4 linked regions of the Homo sapiens genome follow. The protein of the gene in region 2 purifies or fractionates together with the protein of the main gene of each other region. This does not show direct contact. Each region holds a gene or a part of one and is shown on either strand. Other genes may lie near its edges.

Region 1 (3,500 bases), on a different chromosome or scaffold from region 2:
AAAGCTCTGTTAATCAAAGAAACACTTGCATGGGGGGCGGTTACAAGGAAGACTTTTTTCTGTGTGTATATCACCTTCCCCAAAATAGAGCTTATTGCCCTTATTTTTAAATTTTACATCTTTTCTATTTGTATGCAAATCCTTTTCTCTTGACTATCACCTGCAAAGCACATGGATCTCCAATCAAAATGTCAAACAAACTTTTTGCAGTATTTTTTCTCTCCCTGTTCACCCTAACACCCAAACTGGACTTTCCTCCTGCCATCCTTGCTGTGGGAAGAGCAGCTCTGCCACAGAGGCTTGGAAAGGACAGACTGGTGTCGCTGATGAGCACAAGGTCATCCCCAGGCATCCTTCCTTTTCCAACTGCCATTTACCTCTGCGTCAACTGCACTTCCTCTCATCTAGCCTAGGTATCAACAGCTGCATCCCTGCCCCATGCTGGAGCCAAGAGGAGGGCTGTGCTCTTCCTAAGGTGGAAAGAAATGCTTGTGGAGTCTGTTAAGAACAAGATATAACTCCCTTGATATTCACCAAACTAAACTAATTTTGTAATTCTATTTCAGTCAACATTTTTAGATTAAATAACGATTTGTATCTGTCTTGGGCTAAAAGAATTTAAATACTTTTAGGTCTTGTTGTAAAATGTCCAGCTGGAACATAACAAATAAGACAAAACAAATGGGAAAAATAAGATAAATTATATAATCCAGGACAAGGCATTATATTAATAGGCACAAATAAATATATCTCTCCATATAGCTTAGATTTAATTTAGAAATAAAAGTATAGTGGTAGCACACACTGGAACCATAACCCATGGAAGCTATAGGCATGATTAAATAATAATAACCGGTTGACACAGCACTTTATTAGCATCACATTTCATAAACAAGATATCTATATGAATATATTTACCACATAAGAAAATGTACTGTTACGTTACCATAATATAAATTAAATCTCTTAAAAACATTTCCCAAGTGCTTCCATGATATTCCAGTTCAGAATTTAAAGGAAGCCATGGAATGACTTTATCATTGATATTTTTTAAACTCCTTTATTTCTCAAGATATGTATTAAGCTATCATGTTTCACCTGCAATTATTATTGATGCATATCATATTTGCATTTTAACATTAATTTTCAGTTTCACTAGGCAATATGAAGCTTTTGATCAACACTGGTGGATGTCCAAATCAGCAAGGATGCAGAAAAATACTGATGAGAATTTGAACCCAAATGTATTATTGATCGGATACACTTACTCTATTCCTGTAAACCCCTCTTTAATTAATGTGAAAGTCTATATAGAGTTTTTCATCATTAAATATTTTGTTGCATCACTTCGTATATAACCTACACAAATGCTTTAGTAATTCTTATACAATGCATATCTTAACATAGCAGATTCCTCCCAGAAAAAGATATTAGAAGAATAAACATCCAGGTATAATCAAAACAGGTTTTAACTACTCCAAAAGAGTCTCCTTTAATATCTGAATTATCTGACATTCTCTTTAACATGCAAAATTCTAAGGAAACTGATGACTTAAGGTTAGGAGGAAAGAATTTTCAGTAAAGAATTTCAAAGGAACACTGCAGCGTGAAGTATAAAGTGGTTAAGTGCTCTACTTTAATAAAGAAGTTATTTCGGGGAGGAGGATTCAACTTTTACTGCATCTATCTGGAGTCCAGATTCTGGACAAAGAAGTGTTTCATTACGGTAATTATCCAGATAGTTCAGACAAATCTTTTATGAGGCAGGGAGAGTGTAAGGTTGGCATGGTTTCCTGCTTGGATTATTTAGATGATCTGTCTTTGTTGATAAAATTATTTGAAGAAATTGTGCAAGCCTACACTTGACTTCTTTTAGAAAATCATCTTTGTATGGGCCTCTAATCTACTTGGGTCAACCTGGTTATGAAATTTCAAATAGGATATCATTAACAAAGAATATTTCAAATCAATCTGGAAATTAGTGATTCAAAGGGGAAAAATCAGATGGTCTGATTTAAGTAGCCCCTGAATCATTAAATTGTCCCCTTCACTACATTCAAGAATTTGTTTCTGCTAATTAGCAACTTTTTCTTCAGAGATATTGGAGATATTTCTGCTCCCTATCAGGTTAAGAAAACCTTTGATATTTATTTTGAAGAACTCACTTGACATAAGTTAATACCTAAATTAACTAAGATTGCGTTATCAGGTTTTTAAATTTCCTGTCATAATATACTTCTCAAATCATTTAAGATTTCATTTAAGATTCTCCCATCCCATCAAAAATTCCACACACTTTTCACCTGCAAAATGAACACAGAACATTTTCTGAGACATGCCTAAAATATTAATTTCTACTTGTTTAAAAAGTAACAACTTATCAGATAGGTAAATAAGACAGAGTGTGAAATAATCTTAAGAAAATACACTTTTTTCTTTTTGCAGAAAATTGAACTCTCTAAATGTCCTTTGAGAATGCACAGGCAATAAGTCTGAGAAATTCCTTATGTATATGGTTCCTTTCCAAGTTACACAGGTACTTAATTAAAATCCTATAATGATACATCATGCACAATCTATTTTCATATTATAACATCAGTCACATTTTATAATTTCTTTTGTTAATCTGAAACCTAAAACTTCTTATATTAACACTGCAAATTCAAGACAATCCCTAAAATGATATAAGACATTCATGAAAAGAGGCCTGTTTGAGTTTTAAACAAATAAAGAGGAAGTCTGGCAACTTACAGAATAAGCCAGCTTAGGTTTTAAGATAGCATGTGCTGCTTATAGAGGAATGATGCTAGGAAATGAATAAAGTGAGAACAAAGATGCATGTTATGTATGCATGACTTTTTTTTCCCACAAGGTGGTGATTAAACTAAATAGAATTCTGCATAATGGACACATAAAATATCAATAAGTGCCAAGCACAGATAACCCCTATTAAAAATAAAGCAAATGAACATAGGCATAGATGACATTTTAATTACCAAAGAACTTCAAAAGCATCCAAGGAAAGTATTGGGTGTGTGTGTGTGTGTTTGGGAGGTGGGGGGACGTTAATGTTGAAGTCTACAGAATAAATGACACATACGATCTCATTTTCATGGAAACAATAACTACCCAAACACAAAGCCAATGAGCAAAAACCATTTGCCAACCAACCTATTCCTGTGCAACTCAGTCTACAGAAGTAGTCTGTTTAAAGATAATTTTAAAAGGTCAAGTTTTAAGAAGCCAGATATAGTGCTTACATTGAATTCCCAACAACTTTCCTCACACATCAAGCCACAGTCCTTAGCTTCACCTATTTTACTATTACATATACATGTCCATGTTTTAACCCATGGACAAGTTAATGTGAATACTCTCGTTTTCCTCCCTCAACACACACAAAAAATTTCATTTTGGAAATACTCAGAAGTTCTTGCAAGAAATTCCCTGTAGAACTGACTTCTCACATCTTGCATCAGAATAGAAAAGCACAGTTACCT
Region 2 (3,500 bases):
GGATCCAGCAGGAGCGTACGCGCGGAGGTAGGAAGGGGCTCAGAAAAAGAGGCTGAGGTTAGTTTAAGAGGGGGTGGGGACCAGCAAGAGTGGGAAGGGAGAGGAGGCTGGGCCTCAAAGCCCAAGCCAGGAGGACAAGGTGGACCTTCGGGGCCTTGCAATGGCAGTTCTGGGCCCTGGAAGGGGCCGGGACAGAGGCAGGGAGAGTGGCCAGGGCCAGAACTGTGACCGCTGTCCCCTCCGCAGACACCTGCTACGTGTTGTCCTTCTCCATCATCATGCTCAACACCAGCCTCCACAATCCCAACGTCCGGGACAGGCCGCCTTTTGAGCGCTTTGTGTCCATGAACCGCGGCATCAACAATGGTAGCGACCTGCCCGAGGACCAGCTGCGGGTGAGAGAGGCGCAGCCCACCCAGCCTGGCCCCGGGGAATCCAGGAGGGACCTGTCCTTAGATGGATGGCCCGGGAGGGGCTCCTCTGAGATAGACAGCCCCCAGTGGGGACTCTGCTGATATGGCCCACCCAGGCTGTGACTGTCTTGAGAGGCACCGTCACAAAGCGCATTGGTCCTGAAACCCGCCTGCCCAAAAGAGGCCCCCATCTTGAGAAGGATGTCCGAGATAGACCACCCAGGAGGTCCACCCAGATTTAAGCCTTTGGGGGACTCTAGGCAGCCATCTTTCACATCTTCCAAAAAGGGTACCTCACACAGCCCAGGTCTATTTCTTAGAATAGAGATTCTTAGACGCTCAGCATGTCAGGCCTGAAAACCCTCAGACTCTGCTCTAAGCCCTCTGTCCTTTAGAGAGGAGGAAACTGAGGTCTTCCACAAGGCCCTACTTGAGCTGGGCCCTACCAACCTCCGGTCGCTTCCTCAAATAGCCTGCACCCCTGCCACACCATGCCAGGCTCTGCGCCCAGCACAGGGGCCCCAGGGATGAATCAACCACATATGCTGCCCTGACCAAGTTCAGGGTCTGGTGGGAGGACTGTACACATGTGAATCACAAGGCTGCATGATTCATGCGGTGCTGGCTGTGGGGATGGAGCTCTGGAGACGCAGATCTGCTGTCACTGCGGCTGTCATTGCTCTGGGGGCAGGGAAGGGTGCCATCCTGGAAGTCTTCACAGAGGAGGTGACTTCTGAACTGGGCCTTGAAGGTTACATGGGAGTGCTCCCAGAGGAGAAGCCGGGAAAGGACATTTCAAAAAGAAGAAGTGGCCAGAACGGAGGCGTGTCCTGATTGGGAAAGGAGAGGTGTCCAGTGTGGCCGAGGTGTGGTATATATGCACAGTAGTGGGTGACAGGGTGGGGCCAGAGGGTCCAGGGCTTCCAATGACAGCCTCAGGAGTTTGCCTGTTTCCTATGGGCCACAGGGAGCCAGGGGGTATTCATAAGAACAGGAAGGAGAGATTCAGAGCCTGGCTTAGGAAAAATGAATGGACAAGTTCACTTCAAGGACTGAAGATTCCCCAGAGCCCCCTGAGCTTCAATCCCCTCCATGGTCAGAGCCCAGCAGGGAGGGGCAGAGGGGGCGCGAACACCACGGTCCCAGCTCAGCACCGAGTATACCTCCTGCCTCCAAGGCTGGGGTGGAGCCTGGATCTGGAATGATTCTGGTGCCCCTCGGTGTTTGAGAACTGCCTCACCCTTAACCCACCTCTTGCCTGGTCCCAAAAGGAGAAAGTACATCAGAGAGGAGCCACTCCGTAGCATGAGAGCTTGAGAGCTGGTTGGAGCTCAGGTCTACTCCCATCTTCCCCGTTTGCCTGCTAGGTGACCTTGGGCAATGACTCACTGGAGTTGAAGCCACTATCCCCTCTACCAGGAGAGTGGAGATAATAATACTTGCCACAGGGAGTAACTGTTTTAAATGTTACGGGCAGAGCCTGTGCCAGGTATATAATACCTGCCTCCTGCGTGGCTCCCCAGCTAAAGTAGGGCCTGTGGCCTAAGTCACTATTAAAAATAATTAATAATGAAAAAAGCCCCAGCATTTAGTAAAATGCCTGAAACATTTTAAACAGCATTTGAGCATTGGTGACTCATTTCATTTGGGGTCCTCGTGGTGCTATGCGGGCACACCTTGTCTGGCAGGGAATGAGTTAATTACCTCCCAGCACTGGTCCTGCCGCTCTCCCAGGTGCCACATTATTGCCTCTAGCTCCCAGTGAGCCCTCTTCAGCATCTCCCTCCTTAGCTGTTTTTCCCAATTCGAGCCTTTTGTTAATAACAATGCACTGCATTTGTATGGAACTTGTAAGTTTCTTCTCACCAGGCTTTGGGGTCTATTATCTCAATTTAGCTTCAAAATCTGCCCGGGAGGTTTAGGAAGCCCTTATTATCCTCTTTGGCAACCCAGAGAGGCAGACACAGACTAAGGGAAAGAACAGAGCGCTGGACTCAGAACCACCTCCAGTCCCGGCTACCCCACTTTCTGGTTGTGTGACTTTAGGAAAGTGGCTTGACCTCTCTGAGCCCCAGTTCATAGGATTAGTGCAGAAGTGTAAGGTATTCAGCCAAGTGCCTGGTGTAGTTGGAGTGGCTAATCAATCCTGAAGCTTCCCAGGTCAAAAAGAAACACACAGGCAGCTGCGTGGATGTGGGGATCCTCTTGCCTTCTGTCTGGGCCTCACTTTCCCCATATGTAAAGCAAGGATTCAGCTTTAAGCACCTTCAGATAGTCAAAGGTCAGCACTTTGCAGAAGGATTCTCCAGTTTGGGCCCATTAAGTGAGGAGGACATGTAATGCTTTTAAGTGGCCCAATTTGCAAAATTAAGTCTACACAGGTGTGACCCAAAGAGAGGTCACCTCAAGGGTACACAGACCATGAGGATGCGCAGCTGGGAAAGGCTGTGGAGAGGTGCACAGTGGTAGTCAGGGGACAGGAGGGTTGAGCCAACCTTGCTCTGGCCATCCAGATGGGGCAGGGGCAGAGTCCCCAAGAAGCTCAGGGTGAAGGCACAGTGAGTTCAGACTCACAGGGATGGGAGGTCAAATCCCAGCTCTGCCCTTATGTCTGTGTGACCTTGGACATGAGCCTCAGCTTCCTCATCTGCAAAGTGGGCTGATGATGCTGGCTTCATATTGTTTTCTGAGAAGCTGTCAGGCGCCTGGCACTTGGCAGGCCTTGAGAAAAGCTAGGAGAGGAACCACCCACCCTGAGGGCTGTGGGAGGGGGAGCTAGGGTGGAAGAGGCACAGGAGATAAGGGGACAAAGAACTCCACTCTCCGGTGTTACAGTTGGAGAAACTGAGGCCCAGGCAGAGTAACAGTCTCCCAGTTCCAGGCATCTTCTGCCATAGGCAGCCCTGCACCTCCTGGGTCCTTGCCCAGGCCTCTCGGTCAGAATGGACTGTGGATTGGACACAGTACTAAGTACTTTACGTTATTAAGTCATCCCGTCCCCAGTTTACAGCAGAGGACACTGAGCTCCATGAGAGGTAGCTGGCCAGAGGTCTCATAGTTTATGAGGAGTCCTGATTCAAACCCATG
Region 3 (3,500 bases), on a different chromosome or scaffold from region 2:
CAAAATTCCCTTTCTCTTTGTCTTGTAAATAGCTCCACCTCACCACCACCACTAGGCATTGTTCTCAGCAATTAATACCTGTTTAATCAGTTACTCCTTGTAACTATTTCATGCTGTGAAGTAGGTACTACAGTTGTTAATAAAGAATAATGTTGTACTCTGAATGCTATTCCTAGGAAATAACCATAAAACATTTCTGAAAAAAAATTCTGCACACTATCAGCATGAACCAGATGAAGATGCAACACCACAACCTTGAGTGAGCAAAGCGCCCTAACTCAGCATATGTGTGTGTCTTATCCTTCCTTTTGGCTTATCACAAAAAAAAAAAAAAAAAAAAAAAGCTTTAGGACTACGACAGGCCCATGTGGCAGAGAACTACATTAACATGCAGATGCCCGAGATCGAGCCTGGAGCTAAGGAGTCAGTTCCCTCTGCTGTGGGGCCCAGGTATGGGTAGGAGTCTGCTCATGACTCAAATCATAGCCTGGCTGACCCAGTGGACTAGTTTCTAAAAACATCCACTCCTTCCTGTTTCAACAATCATACACCAGAGCCTGCTACCACGTTTGAATTTATTTCAATGATATGCAGGTCAGAACCTTATCTGTTTATATTTCAATGCCAAAATATTTTAAAAATGACTTTTTAATGATGTGTAAAATTGTTCCAACTTTATAAATAACCTCCATTTGTTTGCTTTCAGATTTTGTACATTTGTTTTTTATCTTAATAAACCAAATCTATTCACAGAACTAGGAAGATGCTTATTAATACCAGATTGCATGGTCCATATATCAAGTTTAGCAAATAAGCATTATCCACTTATTTGCTAAAAGCAATCTTTTTCCCTCCAGGTAATTTAGATGATTCTCAAAGATGACATATCATTTTGCAATCTGATTGCAAATTCTATACTGCCACATGATCTATAATAATTATCTCAAAAAAAAAAAATCCCAGTAAAACAAGTGAAGGCTGACAGAGCAAGTAACATTATTCAGCTGAAGCTAATCAATCAGAACGTTATACTTACCCCACTTTCTGCTCCGGAGGGCTGGAGACAGGAGGGATGGAGAGGCTGTGCCTAGACTCAGTGGGTGATGGTAGGGGCATTCTGTCAGGACAAGGACTGGGGGAAGCAATGTGTGATCTGCCCAGACCTAAGGTGCAGAAAGAACCAAGGCAAGAATATTACCAATTGCACGGAGAAGATACCAACGTGGTTTCTAAAGAGCTCTACTAGTTTGAAAATAAACTGTTATCCTCACAAATAGCCAATTATGATGCATAAGATCCAGAAAACTAATGATTCAAGCACCTAAATTAAATTGCAGTGGCAATAATAAAATGCAGGAAACCAACAGGCAGCAAAGGCAAGGCAACTATCACTCTCTAAACAGCTCTGTGTGCCAAACACTAGACCTTGCCACTCTGGCCCGCTGACCCTCACGGCAACCCTGTGTCGTGGGCAGGGTGGCTACCCAACTCCAGAGCACCCCGCAACCCTTTGTGCGGGTGGCTTACCTTCCAGATACATTTCACTTTCGAGGCTTCTTTTTGCTTTTGGAAGGGGTGTGGAAGAGAGGCGTCTGGAGGAAGTGCCCCCGCGGAGCCTCGAGGCTGCACTGCCTGTCAGTGCTTCCACGACGTCATTCCTTTCTTCAAGTGTGCCCACTTGAGGCTGCTCAGAGACAACTCTGTCCTCTCCAAAAATATGTCTTTCCGGGGAACTGGAAGTAATGTTTTTGAAGGCTTCCAGCAAGTGCAGAGATGGTGGGCTCTTTGCTGCTAGTGGGCTTTTGGCAGAGTTTTTAATGACTCTCCGATGGTAACTTCTGAAAGCCTTTTCCAAGCGTTCGGCCTCTTGCTGAAGCTCTTTGACCCTTGCCTTAGTATTGGCTACAAACTCAAGGTCAGAATCAGGGGAACTACCCTCCACCCATGCAGTTGGATAATTTGTGATCCTTGATGCAACCATACGTGCTAGAACGTTTTCCTGTTTAAAAGGATTGTTCAAGAAATCCCCACTTATCTCACCATTGCAAGGCACCACATTGCCATTTATTAATCCATTGACAGAACGATCGATCACAGACTGCTTTGGATTGCAGTACACTTCATTCTCTAGGGCTGCAGGGTACAAAAAGCCAATTTCAGAAGTAAGTGGACAAGGCAGAGAAGAAAATATACTTGAGAATATTATTTTTTTGAAAAATGGAAGAGAGTAATAAGGACAAACTTGCACTATACAGTTTCTGAAGCCATGGTAACGATAACCACTAACATTTACTGAGAGCTTATTGTACCAGCTACAGCTTTGTATGTCTTTTGTAACATGATATAATTTCAGAATCCATTATGCACAATTTTGAAAGCCACAAGGCTCTGAGAACTGAAAATTTATTCATAATTTATTTGGTGGCAAAGCCCAACCAGACTTGAACTCATTTGGTTGAAAAGTTTGACCTGAACTGATGTAAACCCATTTATAATCTTTATTTATCCCAGCATGAATATTCATACAGTTGACTGCAAAATAATTAATGTGCTTTACTATAGGATGCTGTTCAGAACTCCCAGGGCTATTGCGAAATCCACAGCATATGGCCCGAGTTTCATATAAGGAAGTGAGGACCTGCATTCACAACAACACTGTGGTCAAGAAACTCTCACTGCTCCCATTTTACAGATGGGGGGACTAAAGCTTACTGAGGCTGGGTCACACGGTTAGCAAGTCTAAGAGCTACTGGGCTTTCCTAATGCAAAGCCAGTGCACCTGCCCCTCTCTCCTGCAATGCCTCCCCGTGATGCTACAAGAAAGAAGCTTGCCCTCGGCAACACATGCATGCGAAAGAGTTCTATCCTCATTCAACTATTTTTTATTGATAGGAGACTGCTATGATTTCAGCTGTGAGAAGTTTCACAAACAGAACTGAAAGAAAATGAGGAACAGAAAAAAGCAGAAACGAGTAGAGATAAAAATAAAACAAGTGCTGGTAGAAGAGAGCAAGGAGCTGATGAGGAAACAATGCAGGTGGGAACAAGGAAGGCTCAGACCCAGTTGAACTGGTAACACATACGTACTTTCTTTGAACTTGAAAGCAACTGAAGAATAAAGTATCTGAACTTTAATATCCTTCTTACGAAGTAGGAAGGGGCAGAGATGCATCCACAGTGAAGACACAATAATAAAATGATACCAATAACCATTTCCTGAGTGTCTTTTATGTCCCAGGCACTGGACTGAAACCCATTTCATCTTTTTCATCATGGCTCAGTAGGTATTATTATCCCCATTACAAATGAGGAGACTGAGGCCCAAGGAAGTTAAAGTAACATGCCCAAGGTCAAACAACTTCAAAACGGGTCCAAAAGAAGAACAGTTCTGATTCTGAAGGCAATATTCTTTTTGCTAAACCACCCTGCTTGTCCTGTATATTTATATATCTATCAAGGAATCCGTAAAACTACTGAATTGGTGTTAACATTGGGGTAAC
Region 4 (3,500 bases), on a different chromosome or scaffold from region 2:
GGGCCAGGTATGGTGGCTCCTGCCTGTAATCCTCCCAGCACTTTGGGAGGCCGAGGTGGGTGGGTCGCTTGAACCCAGGAGCAACATGGCAAACCCAGTCTCTACAAAAAAATACAAAAATTGCCAGGTGTGGTGGCATGCTGTAGTCCCAGCTACTAGGGAGGCTGAGGTGGAAGAATCACTTGAGCCTAGGAGGCAGAGGTTGTAGTGAGCCGAGATCATACCACTGCACTCCAGCCTGGGCAATAGTGTGAGACCCTGTCTCAAAAAAAAAAAAAAAAGTTTTTGGCTTCTAAAAAAGTAAAGCACCACTCACTGATGAAAAGCTCTAATACACATGGGTTTATGCAGCACCTACCCACTCCCAACCAAAGAGGTGAATACTGGGAAATGAGAGAGCTTGCAGGGAGCCCAGCTGCCTTTTGGCCTGGCTCTTGCCTTTACACAAGGCAATCCCCAGACTACATAGAAATTCATCTCTGTTTACTCTGAGCTGTAGGTTTGTAAGCAGGAAATGCATAAACCTACCATCCTCAAGAACAAGGGCATCTGAGAGGGAGCTGTCTTCACTGGCAATGTTTCCATCTGAGAAGACAAAAAGCAATAGCCTATGAGTTCAGCACATTCCTTCAGCAAAGCCCTATCTGTAAAAATAGCATGTCTACTACCACCTCATACCTTTCTCTTCCTAACCAGAAACAACCCACCAGATACAATAAAAATGCTGTTGGGTGTTTCTTTTGTCAGTCCCCGTGGTGGGTCATTGGCTCAGCCTCCCCACCCCGACACTGCCATGTGCCCATGTGCCCTAGCCTTTGTGTGTTTGTGCCCCGGTTTCATAGAATACTGCAATGCAGAGTGGCTTCATACCGAATATAAAGGCTGCCCCAGCCTGATTAAACCACATCATTGTCCCTGCACAAACCCAGGGCGTGTACCAGCAAAACCAAAGGACGCAAACTGCTTTTGATTCTACAAATGCGAAACCAGGGTAGGCACTTTGCTTTGCTTCTGTGGCAATAAATGGCTTCTCAATAAACTTTGTAAGTCATTAGTAGAGAAAACAAGCGTGCTAAATACAGGCTCCATCTCTCCAAAGCTTATTTTTATAGATGCCATTCAATTAACCGGGAGAACACACCCAAAAGGGAGATGGTAAAATAATCCTCCCTGTTTCACTGCTGGGGAAACTGAGGGGTAGGAAGGGAAGAGTGGTTTGTCCGAGGTGGTTTTGCTCTCCAGCAATGTGAGCAAAGGTCCCAAGTCTTCAGATTCCAAGTTTGGTGTTTTATCTCTAAAATAATACGCTAAGGAACTAGCAAGAACCTTAATTACTCCTCTAGTTCAAGTGGGTCCTTGGATGTTTCTATAGGAAACATGTTTCTGTTGGGAACCCCTAAGTGCCTTGGAGGGGGCAGAGGGTCTCAAATGGAGTGTCAGAAAGAGGTTGGCTGAGGGAGCTTTACTAGGAGGTAGGGGAAAAGTTGTGTGGTCTTGGCCAAGGACAACAGGATGAGATAGGGAAAGATGGTCATTCCAAATTTCCTAGAGCAAAAGAATTTTAAAAAATTCTCTTTTTAACTAGAAATTCACTTTATTTATGTTGCATGATGGACTATGAGCAACCAGGAGCTCTGACTTCGGCATCTTGGAATCTTCAGCACATCACTGCTACGCTAGGATGCTCACGAGTTTAGGCTGCAAATCTGCATCTATCTATATTTATCTATCTATGTAATTGTGGTGAAATATATATAACATCACATTTACCATGTTAACATTTTTTTTTTTTTCAGAGATGAGTCTTGCTATATTGCCCAGACTGGCACGCATGGTTACTCACAGGTATAATCATAGTGGACTACAGTCTCAAACCTCTGGCTCAAGTAATCCTTCTGCCTCAGCCTCCTGAGTAGCTGGGACTATAGGTGCATGCCAACATGCCCAGCTTAACTATTTTTTTGTTTGTTTGTTTGAGATAGAGTTTCGCTCTTGTTGCCCAGGCTGGAGTGCAATGTCGCAATCTCAGCTCACTGCAACCTCTGCCTCCCAGGTTCAAGCGATTCTCCTGCCTCAGCCTCCTGAATAGCTAGGATTACAGGCATGCGCCACCACGCCTGGCTAATTTTTGTATTTTTAGTAGAAACACTTTGGTCAAGCTGGTCTTGAACTCCCGACCTCAGGTGATCCGCCCGCCTCAGCCTCCCAAAGTGCTGGGATTACAGGTGTGAGCCACCTCACCCAGCCCCAGCTTAACTATTTTTAAGTGTACAGTTCATTGGCATCAAGCACATTCCCATTGTTGCGTAACCGTCACCACCATCCATCTTCTGTTTGAATAATATTTTCATGTTTCCAGACTGAAACTCGGTATCTATCAAGCAGTAACTCCTCATTCCCCTGTCCCCTAAGCCCCCTATAGTAACCACTATTCTACTTTCTGTCTTTCTAGAGCAAAGGTATTTTAAACACACATACCTTTATGTGTGTTTAGGAGGAAAGAATGCTTGATATATATTTTCAAGAATTCACTGACTTAGACAAGAAGGATTCTAACAGTTTAGGGGACTTGATGCTTTGTGGGTGGATTTTGGGGGATTTCCTTCTAGAATTTACCAAAGGTCATCACCCAAATTCCTAACCCATGACTGGAGCTCAGGGTTCCAGATAATCAGATGGTCCAGTCTCCCCAAGCTTCAGCTCTTGGGATAGGAGGCCCCTGGCAGCATAGGGGTCAGTGGGTTGGCGGGGGCCGCTCGAAGACAGGGATCACTGCTGCTGTGTACCCCAGCCCCACCTGTCCTTCCAGACTTGAGTAGGGGTGGTCAGGTCCCTGAGAGTGTCAGAGCCTGGTCTAGCCCAGTCAACTCAGCTCAGTTCACAGTAAGGGCTGAGAAGAATGCTAGCTCCTGGCTGCAGGTTCTCCCAGGGAGGAAACCAATAGTGATACCAACAGTTTGATTCGTACAATCCCTTCATCTGTGTCTGAGTCCACTTGGTTTCTCTCATGTGGGATCAGGCCTTACTCGCTTCATTTTATGGATGGACAAATGAAGGCAGCGGACAGTTAGGCAGCTGCTCAGGTCGTGCAGGGACCACTCGTGGGACCTGGCGTCTGGTTGCCGGGGCCCGGGCGTGGGAGTGGGGTGGGGGCAGCCCGGTTGGCACTGACCGTCTATGATCAGCGAAGCCCTCTGGGTGGGTTTCTTCCCAGACTTGATGCGGTTCTCATTGATTGCATTTTCAATCTCCTGCAGTTTCTTCAGTGCATTCAGATACGAGGTTTTCCTTTGTTTCTTCAGTTTTTTGCTGACGTTGGGGTCACTGGCTAGGCGGCGGGCGGCCTCCGTAATCTGGGACTGAATGGCAAACTCTCGTTCCAGGCGTTCCAGCTCAGCTTCCTGTGGGAGGGAAAGCACCGGTTTGGGTTACTGGGGATGCTGAGCAGGGAGACCCTCATCCTTCCCTCCCCTGTCCCAAGGCAAGTCCAGTTCCATGGG

Evidence for each region. Proteins that work in one complex are often made in the same cells at the same time.
Region 1: the proteins of CYTH4 (region 2) and PROX1 purify together in Homo sapiens (affinity purification with mass spectrometry; one large-scale study listed by BioGRID and IntAct). This does not show direct contact.
Region 3: the proteins of CYTH4 (region 2) and OFD1 purify together in Homo sapiens (affinity purification with mass spectrometry; one large-scale study listed by BioGRID and IntAct). This does not show direct contact.
Region 4: the proteins of CYTH4 (region 2) and FRMD4A purify together in Homo sapiens (affinity purification with mass spectrometry; one large-scale study listed by BioGRID and IntAct). This does not show direct contact.

Annotation. Positions count from the first base shown.
Region 1 is NC_000001.11:213,990,973-213,994,472, reverse strand, and holds part of PROX1 (prospero homeobox protein 1), read right to left. Parts: exon of another isoform or gene 3,499-3,500; intron 1-3,498. UniProt on the Homo sapiens protein: Transcription factor involved in developmental processes such as cell fate determination, gene transcriptional regulation and progenitor cell regulation in a number of organs.
Region 2 is NC_000022.11:37,303,008-37,306,507, forward strand, and holds part of CYTH4 (cytohesin-4), read left to right. Parts: intron 1-246; coding exon 247-395; intron 396-3,500. UniProt on the Homo sapiens protein: Promotes guanine-nucleotide exchange on ARF1 and ARF5. Promotes the activation of ARF factors through replacement of GDP with GTP.
Region 3 is NC_000023.11:13,758,748-13,762,247, reverse strand, and holds part of OFD1 (centriole and centriolar satellite protein OFD1), read right to left. Parts: intron 2,134-3,500; coding exon 1,528-2,133; intron 1,164-1,527; coding exon 1,037-1,163; intron 1-1,036. UniProt on the Homo sapiens protein: Component of the centrioles controlling mother and daughter centrioles length. Recruits to the centriole IFT88 and centriole distal appendage-specific proteins including CEP164. Involved in the biogenesis of the cilium, a centriole-associated function.
Region 4 is NC_000010.11:13,662,925-13,666,424, forward strand, and holds part of FRMD4A (FERM domain-containing protein 4A), read right to left. Parts: intron 3,402-3,500; coding exon 3,173-3,401; intron 586-3,172; coding exon 529-585; intron 1-528. UniProt on the Homo sapiens protein: Scaffolding protein that regulates epithelial cell polarity by connecting ARF6 activation with the PAR3 complex. Plays a redundant role with FRMD4B in epithelial polarization. May regulate MAPT secretion by activating ARF6-signaling.